Homo sapiens: one gene and its partners. The protein of the gene in region 3 interacts with the protein of the main gene of each other region in a pairwise test. Each region holds a gene or a part of one and is shown on either strand. Other genes may lie near its edges.

The links.
Region 1: the proteins of CLEC7A (region 3) and C14orf180 interact in binary tests that used the Homo sapiens proteins (3 or more experiments, as listed by UniProt).
Region 2: the proteins of CLEC7A (region 3) and TLCD4 interact in binary tests that used the Homo sapiens proteins (3 or more experiments, as listed by UniProt).

Annotation. Positions count from the first base shown.
Region 1 is NC_000014.9:104,577,781-104,581,531, reverse strand, and holds the start of C14orf180 (nutritionally-regulated adipose and cardiac enriched protein homolog), read right to left. Parts: upstream 1,769-3,751; 5' UTR 1,529-1,768; intron 273-1,528; exon of another isoform or gene 1-272.
Region 2 is NC_000001.11:95,141,334-95,145,084, reverse strand, and holds part of TLCD4 (TLC domain-containing protein 4), read right to left. Parts: intron 1,195-3,751; 5' UTR 1,184-1,194; coding exon 1,029-1,183; intron 1-1,028. Other genes in the region: TLCD4-RWDD3 (TMEM56-RWDD3 protein), read right to left, coding at 1,029-1,183.
Region 3 is NC_000012.12:10,128,374-10,132,124, reverse strand, and holds the start of CLEC7A (C-type lectin domain family 7 member A), read left to right. Parts: upstream 1-1,925; 5' UTR 1,926-2,042; coding exon 2,043-2,145; intron 2,146-3,751.

The DNA of each region.
Region 1 (3,751 bases), on a different chromosome or scaffold from region 3:
AACCAGAGCTGTTGCGGCTCACAACCAGCTGAGAAGTTTCCATTACGGCGACACTGAGCAGTGGCCTCAGCGGCCCTGAGGGCCCCGGCTGACTTGCTGCTCTCGGGACAGCCCGGTCCATGGGGAGGCCGTCAACCACGGGCTTGGTGGCCCCAGGAGGAGCTGGGCCTCCTCAGTCTCCCAGCACCTTAGTAGTTTGGCCACAGGCCTAACCCAATGGCCCTGGGGCTGCAGATGCAGGTTGTGCCTTCTTCCGGTGGAAGAAGACTGGGACCATGGACACTGCCTCGCTGGCCTTTCCTCTGCAGGGCGGAGGCAGAACACAGCCAGGCGGGGTGGCTGGGCTCCTGGGAAAAGCCTTGGCTCCCAGCCCAACGCTCACCACTGGAACCACGCTGGCAGCTCCCCAGACAACATGCGTTCTCGACTTAAGTAAGAGGGAGAACTTGTGGGGAGGCCCCTGGCTGGGCTGACCGCCCACTGGGCTTGCTCAGGTGCCTGCAGGCCCTACCAGGTAGGAACAGGAGCAGGAGCTGCCTGGTGGCCCCCTGAGGCCCCTCTCCATGCCTAGATGGGCCCTCACATCCCGAGGTGCAGTTAGGGCTCGAGGTAGCAGCAGTACCGGGTGATGGCTGCTCATCTGCTGGGTGCAGGGGCCACCCTAGGCCTCGAGAGCTCCAGACAGACAGGGCGGGGGACCCCCCCAGGCCCTTCCTCCCATATGTGGAATGGGGGCTGTTTGCCAACTGTCCAGGGCACTGCAAAGCTCAGTAGTGCCCAAGAAATGGCGTGGCGTCCAGTGCTGGGTGGGGGTCCCATGGCCACACAGGGCAGGACAGGGATTCCTTCTGACTGACGGCTCAGAAAAGAGCCAGTTCTCAGGGATTCCCAAACACTGAGAACTAGGCTTCAGTTACTGGAGTAACGAATCCATTCCTGCTAGGCTGGGCCTGCGTAGACTTGCCCTCGGAGGATGCCCCCCACCAAGGCCCTTCAGGGAAGGCTGGCTGGGTTCATGCCTGGCACGGCTGCCTGCATTCCCCTGAGAGTGCAGCCCCTTCTCCCACTGCCCAGGCTGTTTCGCGCAACATCAGGTGCCCTTTGGAAGCTCCTGTGTGGCCAGGAGCACCCCCGCTGCTAAGTTTGAAGTGGCCGTGTTCCCTGCTTCCCCCAGAGGCGGCCTGGCCTCAGTGTGGACACAGGGCCGGCCTGGGACTGTCTCCGTTTTAGGGAAACCATCAGTCCCAGGAGAAGGGGGAAGGGTGGCCACTCTGGAGCTTGTTCAGGTCACTCAGGATCATCAGTGTGTGCTCTGCCCAGTCTCTGCCCACACCTGCTGCCCAGCTGGGGCAGGTTCCCCACCTGCACCTGCCTTTGGCAATCTCTCCGCTCTGCCCAGTCTCTGCCCACACCTGCTGCCCAGCTGGGGCAGGTTCCCCACCTGCACCTGCCTTTGGCAATCTCTCCGCTCTGGCATCTTCATACCCAAGCAGGAAGTGAGCCCCCTCTCCCTGGGGCTGGAACTCACCTGGTTCCCTCCTGGCTCCCCGAGGGACAGAAACAGGCTCTTCGGGATCTCCCTGTGGGGCACAGTCCAGTGAGGTCCTGGACCCTCTTGGCCGGCAGCACCCCTCCCAGGCCCTTGAGAGTTGAGCCTCGGGCAGAACTGCAGGGCACACAGGTGAACGGGCCAGGCCCGCCCAGGCCTCCTTCCCGAGGGCTCTGATCTGGAGGCGCCACCGCCCGCTGGCAGGGCCGGGTCTGTTGTGGCCTTCGTCCCGTCTCCAGCCCTCTCTGCTGGATCGCAAAGCTGGGCCAGCTGGCAGCGGCCAGGCTATAATTACCTCTCCCCTTTGGCAGAAATAGCAGTGAACCCGAGGACAGGCCGCTGGCCCCGGAGCAGAAGGGGGTGGCTGTTTCCCAGGCCCCCGGTGGACAACAGACCATGATTTCAGATAAGACCAGAGTTTGCTGCTGTTCCTACCCCTCCCGGCCCAAATGTGCCCCCTCCCAGGTCAATTCCAGAGCTGTGCAGCTCTTGGAAAAACCTATGGATTGGAATTCGGGGCAGAGTGGGAGAGGGAGGGCACTGTGGGGCTGCGGGAGGTGAGGTGATCACAGAGTCCAGCCTCCAATAAGACCCTGACCCAGCATGGGGCCTCCGTGGTGGCGAGAGTGCCCGCCCTGCCCCAGGCCCCTGTGCCCCTGTGAGTCCTGACCTGGGGTTGCCAGAGGGAGAGGCAAAGAATGGGTCCCAAGCTGCCGTTTTGGGGCACACTGGCCGACCCTCGATATTGCCCTGGCAGGAAGGGGCAATGTATGGGTCAGTGAGCGATGGCAGGGGTGAGGGATCAGCCTTTCTCAGGGTCTGTCCTGGGTGGGCGTCCAACTGCCCTGCCTGGCGCTGCTGAGTCTGCCCCTCATTTGTAGGTGAAAGTGCAGCTCAGAGAGTTGAGGCACCCTGTCCAGAGTCACACAGCCCGGAGGTGGTAGCCTGGCTCAGGCTTGGTGGCCCGTCCTCGCCAGCCCCCCCGTCTGCTGGTGCATGTAAAGGCAGGTCTGAAAGAGGCTGGTGAGGGCATCACTGGCGCAGGGCACCACCACATGTGGGCAGACCCCTGCCTGGTTTGTGGGGCTTTGACCTGTTTCAGGGGACTGCTGGAGGAGGTGTGGAGAGACCCGTGTTTCTCCATTAGGAATGGGGGTGCATCTCCCTTGGGTAAAGCTACAGGACCCCTGGGAGCCCAGGGTGTGCCAGGCTGGGGGACAGTGTGCACAGAGGGTGACTGCTCAGGGCCAGCCGTGGGGCTGCATGGACACAGAGTCCTGGAACCCACCGTCAGAGCATGAGCAACGCAGCCACTGGGATGGGGTTCAGCAGACCGGCCCTCCCCTCACTGCCGTCTTCAGTACAGGGCATGGGGGAGCAAACTTTTCTCTTACAGGGCCATATGGCACACAGTGCGCTCTGTGTCTACACAAACGGGGTGGGCCAGATTGGCAGGAGGGCCTTGGCTCGCTGACGCTTGTTCCAGGGAGAGCACTGAGGAAGGCTGGGTGGTCCTGCTGGCAGTCTGGCTTCCTGGGAAGAGTGAGGTCCTGTAGCCAGACAAGACCCTCTCCCGCCTGTGCCCAATCTGGGCGCTTATCCTTGGCTTCCCAGGGCTGGAGCTGCTCCTCCCAGATTTCAGAGGTCAGGCTGCACTGCCCGAGGTCGGGGGGCTCCGGGACAACTCCTTCCTGACCCTTCTCATTGACAGAGGGGAGGGAACGGTCAGCCCACAGACCTTGGGTGCCGCCCCCTCTCTGTGCTCCCTGGAAAGGCGATGCGGGCTGACCCTGTGGACATTCGCTCTGGGTAATTTATTAGTGAGCTGATGGCTCGGCTCAGGGCTCAGGTCCCAGCGGGGTCATATTTCCGGCCGTATCTGATAGGGCTCGGCTGCACCCTCCTCGCCTCCGTCCATTGCGCCTCACTCCAGCCTGGGCTCTGCAGGGCAAGATAAGGCTGGCCCAGGGGAGTGCTGAGCTGCCGGGTCCGCGGAGGGTCCCCAGTGCCTGTGCCAGGCAGTGCCAGGGAAGAGCCCAGTTGTGTCAGGCCTGCCTGCAGCCGGCAGGTGGGCACATGTGCCCACGGGCAGTGGTGCCAATGACGTGGTGCCCAGGTTTGGGCCCAGCTCTGTCACTGTTCAGCCAGGTGACCTCCGCCACACCCTCATCTCTCCCCGGGAGCTGGGAATGATCGGATGCC
Region 2 (3,751 bases), on a different chromosome or scaffold from region 3:
GAAGAAGTCATCAGAGCCATTTTGTGTTTGAAATCTTGTGAGATTAATAAGTTGTACACACACAAAAAAATTGCAACCAACTTTTTAAAACTCTGGCAGGGTGCAGTGGCTCATGCCTGTAATCCCAGCACTTTGGGAGGGCAAGGTGGGTGGATCACCTGAGGTCAGGAGTTCAAGACCAGCCTGGCCAACCTAGTGAAACCCTGTCTCTACTAAAAACACAAAAATTAGCTTGGCATGGTGGCGCATGCCTGTAATCCCAGCTACTCAGGAAGCTGAGGCAGGAGAATCACTGGAACCTGGGAGGCAGAGGTTGCAGCGAGCCAAGATTTCACCACTGCACTCCAGCCTGGGCGACAGAACGGGACTCTGTCTCAAAAAAATAAATAAACAAATAAAATAAAAATAAAAAATAAAACTCCAGCAGATTTCTATATCAATAGATGTCTAATTCTTTCTCCATTTACTTTTCTGTTTAAAAAAAAAAAACTAAAAAGAAATTTTTACTTTAAAATTATATAACAAAATAATAAATGCTGGAGGGCTCTAAATTATAATGCAAAGTTCATTAAAAGATTCATATGCACTGACTGTACACTTTGTTCCCTGATGTGTAGAGTCTAACTGCCCCAGGTCTGGCTAAGTTGGCCAATGCTGTATGGTATAAGCTACTCAAAAGTACAACTAATTTTTTCTTCCATCTTTGTTTCCAAAGAATATGTTTGTTATAAATATTTCAAAGAAGAACACGAAAGTACTAGTATTCATCCACAGTCAGCTGGAGTCTACTTCATCTTCACACACTTCCTCAGAAACTTAAGTAAATTTCTCCTAACATCTTTCAATATATGAATTCTTAAACTTTTTTTTGCATGAGATCATCTACTTGTTTTTCCTTTTATTTCTAAGATCAAATAAAAATTTGGCCTTACATTAGATCCTAAATGAAATACTTTTTTGAAATATTTTAAATAATTTTATCTCATAAACTAGTTTCTTGTCATCAATTACATTTTCATATGCTTTACCTTGAGTTCCATTCAATCTTCTTTTTGAAGCTGAGACTATTGAAACCTGGAGAAACTTTTGCTGAAAACCAGTAACTTACAAAGTAGAAAAGAAGCTGAAAGGTGAAAAAGCTGATACAGGTAACACTGATGAGCAGTTTTGTGTTGATCTCCATATTTCTTCAACCTGTTAAGATAAATGACAGCTATAAATTGTTGTCTCATAATAAACCTAGAGTAATTTTTTTATTTTAAGAAATATGTCTTGTAATTTTAGTAATTTTTAAAATTTAGAACAAATGTTAAGAATATAAACTATAAGAATTTTTGACCTTTTGTATATTTCTTCACCTTTACCATCTATTTGTCATGTATCTTATGTCTGTTTTATCTTAAAGATCTCAATATTAGAGGTGTCATTTATAATTTTAACATCATGATATTCAAAATTATCTAAGTCTTAATATTAACAGAGAATTTCAAGTACTATAAGTAAAAACTATTCTTCTAATAATATTTCAATTAAATTTATGACAAATCGATTTCTTTATCCCTCAATTTCTCATCTATGATATGAAAGAGTTGGTTACATAATTTCTAAGAAACAATCAAGCCAAAAACCATAGAACTAACACTGCCTGTAATAACAAAACAAAAAATAATTCCATAATTAAAAAACTAATTTTGGAGCAGGACAAACAACATTTAAAACAAAATTAAAATCTTAAGAAGAACACAGTCTTAGCAAAGAGCCATTGCACTGTTGAGGCAAGACAATAGGGTCTGGAGGCAGGGAACCTAAGGCCGATTCATACTGACTTCCTAGAACTAAATCAAACAGAAAAGCCCAACTTTACACACCTAACTAACAAAATAACTGGAGGTTACTCGCTTTGAAAACCCCTCCCTCACTTTTCTGAGTGGCAAATGGAAAACTGAAAGTACCTCTGATTGGTTGCTTTCCGCAACCAATCAGACGTTTACATAGGAGTATAACTTTATAACTTCATTTCAGCCTCTGATTGGTTGCTTTCCCCAACCAATCTGACTGACTGCCAGCCAAGTCTTCCTTTGCACAGAAGTGTAACTTCCCCTCCCCTCCGCCACGCCCCCAACCCCGCCTCCAGATGGAGTCTTGCTGTGTCCCCCAGGCTAGAGTGCAGTGGTGCGATAGATCTCAGCTCACTGCAACCTCCGCCTCCCGGATTCAAGCAATTCTGCTGCCTCATCATCGCGAGCGGCTGGGATTACAGGCACGCACCACCACACTCGGTTAATTTTTGTATTTTTAGTAGAGACGGGGTTTCACCATGTTGGCCAGACTGGTCTTGAACTCCTGACCTCGTGATCTGCCCACCTCAGCCTCCTAAAGTGCTGGGATTACAGGCGTGAGGCACCACAACCGGCCTAGATTGTGGGCCACTACTTCATTTGCATGGGGTGTACAACAAGTGGCCAATGGGAAACCTGTAGCAGGTATTTAAGCCCTAGAAAATTCTGTAACCGGGCTCTTGAGCCCCTATGGTAGGACCAACTCCCACCCTGTGGAGTGTACTTTCATTTTTAATAAATCGCTACTTTCATTGCTTCATTCCTTCCTTGCTTTGTGCATTTTGTCTAATTCTTTGTTCAAAATGCCAAGAACCTGAACACCCTCCACCGCTAACACCGTCACTGCACAAATGAGAATTTAACTTTTAAAACATGCTCTTCAATCACACACATTCTTGGAGCAAAAGGCCTGCAGGGCTTTGTATCCCTTATTAAAAAAAAAAAAAAAAAAAAAGATTTTTATAAAAGAGCTTCAGGTCTTAACAATCGAGTTAGCAGAAAGAATAGTACTATGCATATATGCACACTCAAAGTGTGTTTTCTATTTCATTGAGCTGAACTTTATTTGGCTCCTAAAAATCTTAGGAACATTCAGAGCAAAAAAAAAAAAAAAAAGGCACTAAGGCATTTGCTCATATCCAGCAAATACAGCATTTCTATGGCTCCATCTTTGATAAAGCTGATTCTCAAATGAAAAAGAAATAAATCAATACACATTTCCAGCTGCCTAATGCAAAGAAATAAAGTCACCTACTGAAATCAATTCACCAGAGAAAAGCCAAGTCATTGACTGCACTAGCAATAACCCCACTTCATTCCCTTCCAACCAGGATATCGTAATAAGAATCAATCTCCCACAGGGCCCCTTCCATCAGAATTCATATGTCTATAATGAATTCTTTCCTCATTCTTTGTGTGTGTGTGTGTGTGTGTGTGTGTGTGTGTGTGTGTGTACTTGGTAAAAATATTGATATTACAATTCTTCTCTATGAGACTCCATTAACTTTACTGCTCTTTTACTTCTTTTTAATTCAACATATGTTTATTGGGTATTAAAATTTTAATTTGTGGTCTTTTAGCCTAGGTTTAATATTAACCAAACAATACATAAAAGTTTTGTACATAAATTAAGCATTACCATAATTTGCTAAGTGGGATGTAAGGAGAATAATGCTTTTCTAAGATTAAAGCAAATAGGTATCTGGAGGCCAGATGGACACAAAATTGGAAAAAAAATATAATCAGTAATCAGAAGAGAATGGAGAATCTAATCTTAAATGTGAGGAGGTTTCCCCTGAAGACTTTCGTATGCTCTCTGCTGATCCTAGAGCAGAAGGTGGGCACGGGCTGCTCATTTAGTTTGTTAAAATTCAATGTATACAAAGCATTTATTTCATGAATGTTAAAAGGTG
Region 3 (3,751 bases):
GGAGGCAGAGCTTGCAGTGAGCCGAAATCGCGCCACTGCACTCCAGCGTGGGCAACAGAGCGAGACTCTGTCTCAAAACAACAACAACAACAAAAAACTTGGTAACAGATAGGCTCCTGAATTCCTTTTAGAGCAGTTACTTTAGAAATCTTACAGTTAGGCCAGGTGCAGTGGCTCACGCCTGTAATCCCAGCACTTTGGGAGGCCGAGGCAGGCGGATCACCAGAGGTCAGGGGTTCAAGACCAGCCTGACCAACATGGAGAAATGCTGTCTCTACTAAAAATACAAAATTAGCCTGGCGTGGTGGCACATGCCTGTAATCCCAGCTTACTCAGGAGGCTGAGGCAGGAGAATCGCTTGAACCCGGGAGGCGGAGGTTGTGGTGAGCCGAGATCGTGCCATTTGCACACCAGCCTGGGCAACAAGAGCGAAATTTCGTCTAAAAAAAAAAAAAGAAAGAAAAGAAAAATAAATCTTACAGTTAAATTCTTTCTCTGCCCTTTGAGAAGCAAATCTACCACACAGAACTGTTTCTTCAAGGACTTGGGAGCTGTTTCTTTGAAATGCAAACATTCAGGGAGATAAATCTTGCTCTTTCTTTCAGATGCAGCATAAGGACCAACTTAGCTGGGTGCTTCACTTCAACTATCACCATGTCCTTCTGTCATATAGATAGGCAAAGTTTCTCTGTCCTCTGGATAAGGGCCAATTAACAAATCCAGAGAGTCTAGTCACATTAACTTTCCTTAACACCACTCAGTATCTTTTCCTTAGCAAACTCCACTTTAAAATGTCATCAGCTTTACTTTTGGGGAAGTTGAGTTCAGTTAATGCTGCACTGGTTCCTGTTGCAATAGTATTACTGAATAAAACCTGTCCTCACCACATTAACTAGTATCCAGATTTGTTGATCCTTGACAACACTCAGATGTCTCCTGCACTCTACTGGCTTCAAGGTCGGATAAATGAGTTGAACACCTCTTCAGTTTCCAGCAATGTTAGGTGTTTTCTATATTTCTTTGATTTGATCATTACTATGGAAACTGGAAGAGAGGGAAAAAAAATCAAACATCTAACATAATATTTCAGTCCCAACACCTTCCATAAGCTGTTCCTTGCAATATAAGTGTATGGAATGATGAAAGAGGCAGTGTAGCGTAACAGAAAAGACCACGAGTTTTGCAGCAAGAGTCAGCTTTGATTTGATTCCTTGCTCTAAATTTTTAAAATTAGCTTCTTAAACCTGAGAAAGAGGCTAAATTTTCTGTCTCATTTTTTCATTTGAAAATAGAAATAATAATGCCTACTATATAGACTTGGAAAAGTGAGATTGAACAAGAAAATATGTACAACATGTGGTACTTAGCTCATAGTAATTGTTCAATAAATGTTATTTTGTGTTAATATCTGATAATTCCCAAAGAGATTTGTTTTCTCTGTCTGTTGTTACAACAATGCATCTCCTCATGCCATCCCTCATTTACCTATCTATATATTTCCTTTATTAAGCAATGAGTTTCTTCATAGGTATCATTTTTCCTTGTATTGTAAGCTCCTACCAATTGAAAAGGTGGGCATCCAGTACCTGTTTATGTAATTTAAAAAATACATGAATAAATACATGAACAAAGTTATGGTAAACTTGGAGCACCAAAACTGAAATAGTTTGCATCGGTTAAATTAATTAATGTCAGACTTAGTTGTGAGAGTAATGAAGGCAGCATAAGACATTAATGTATGCATTTTTCTTACATTTGGTCTGAAACAAAGACTCATCTGCTATGCTGCCTTTTAGTTTTCCTGAGTCAGCAGTCTCAGAAACAGGATCTAAAGGTACAAATGGAAAATTACCACAGCATAGTTTCATTTCCTGCTCTTGAATATCTGGTTGAACTACTTAAGCTTAATTTGTTAAACTCCGGTAAGTACCTAGCCCACATGATTTGACTCAGAGATTCTCTTTTGTCCACAGACAGTCATCTCAGGAGCAGAAAGAAAAGAGCTCCCAAATGCTATATCTATTCAGGGGCTCTCAAGAACAATGGAATATCATCCTGATTTAGAAAATTTGGATGAAGATGGATATACTCAATTACACTTCGACTCTCAAAGCAATACCAGGATAGCTGTTGTTTCAGAGAAAGGTATATATATGTTTTTTCTAATGTGTGCCTTTAGCTCTCCCGTTTGAAAAGATATAAGGGGAGGCTAGGCATGGTGGCTCACACCTGTAATCCCAGCACTTTGGGAGGCCGAGGCGGGTGGATTGACTGAGGTCAGGAGTTCGAGGCCAGCTTGGCTAACGTGGTGAAACTCTGTCTCTACTAAAAATACAAAAATTAGCCGGGCATGGTGGTGCACGCCTGTAGTTCCAGGTACTTGGGAGGCTGAGGCAGGAGAATCACTTGAACCTGGGAGGTGGAGGTTGCAGTGAGCCAAGATCATGCCAATGCACTCCAGCCTGGGTGGCAGAGCAAGACTCCATCTCTGAAAAAAAATAAAAATAAAAACAAAACAAAAAGATATAAGGGGAGAAAATTTGAGAGCCTCGTGATGTGTATATTTTTATGGATATACTTTTAAAGGCTTCAGATGTCACTGAAGATAAATTGAATGCACCCTAAACCTTTTTTCATGAAAATTATTCAGTGACCAATTATTAGTGTTTAAATTAATTATGTCTGATGGCAGAAAATAGAATTTCTCTTTTCTATAGATATAGACATTTCATCAGTGAGGAATTGGTAATAAGTGGGATAATACACAAAGATAAAGGATTTCTGTATGAGTGACTTGTTGCTTGTTTGATAGAAAGGCTAGATTATCGAATGGAGGCCAGGAAACTTAAAGAAGTATATATATGAACAACATTTTTTTTTTGTGGTAAGAGATTAATTTAAATTGTTTTTAAACAAAAAACAATTATTGGTATACCAGTGATGGAAAATATATGAACATATGGTAGATAAAAACATCCCACCAGCAGGACATGAGTCTTAAACAAAGTGTAAATGAAATGAAATAGAAAGAAGGGCATTGGAGGATCTCTGTATTCATAGAATGGGTGATTTAGCCTACTCTACGATTCTCCTATGTGACAATTCTATGAAATGTCCTGACAGCTTAGTCACAGTGGAAAGCAGAAATACATTCTGGTTATGGCAATGTTCATACAAAATTAGTTCCCTATTATCTTTGAGAGAGAGAGATCATTTGTCGGTTTTGACACCAGAGTTTGCTTTCTTCTGCTTTCTGGTTATTCACACTGCACAAATATTTTCCTCTCAGCACTGATGTAATTCTTTTCTTGGGCAACCTATTGAGGAAGCGTGGAAAAAGTGGATGAGGCAAGAGGTAGGGAGACATGCGCATGTTTATGCATATGTGTAGGCAAACGGTATCCTGCAACAACACACCTATCATGTGCTAGCAGTCTCTAAACAAGGTGCTTTTATATGTGTTAGCTCGTTTAATTCCCGCAATAATCCTTTGAGATATTATTACCCCAGTTTCACAAAGAGGAATAAAAAACAACAAAGGGAGTAATTTGCCCAGGGTCATGCAACAAACATATGAAAAGGGAAAATTACCCTTAGTAATCAGTGCTATCTCCCCAACATTAAGCTATTTCCTCTAAGAATCAGTGGGATTTCAGGGATCCTACTAATGTCAAGACCTGTAGATGTCAATGTGGAACTGAAATTAGGAGCATACAGTTATCAAGCCAATGTGCCGAAATTACAATTCCAG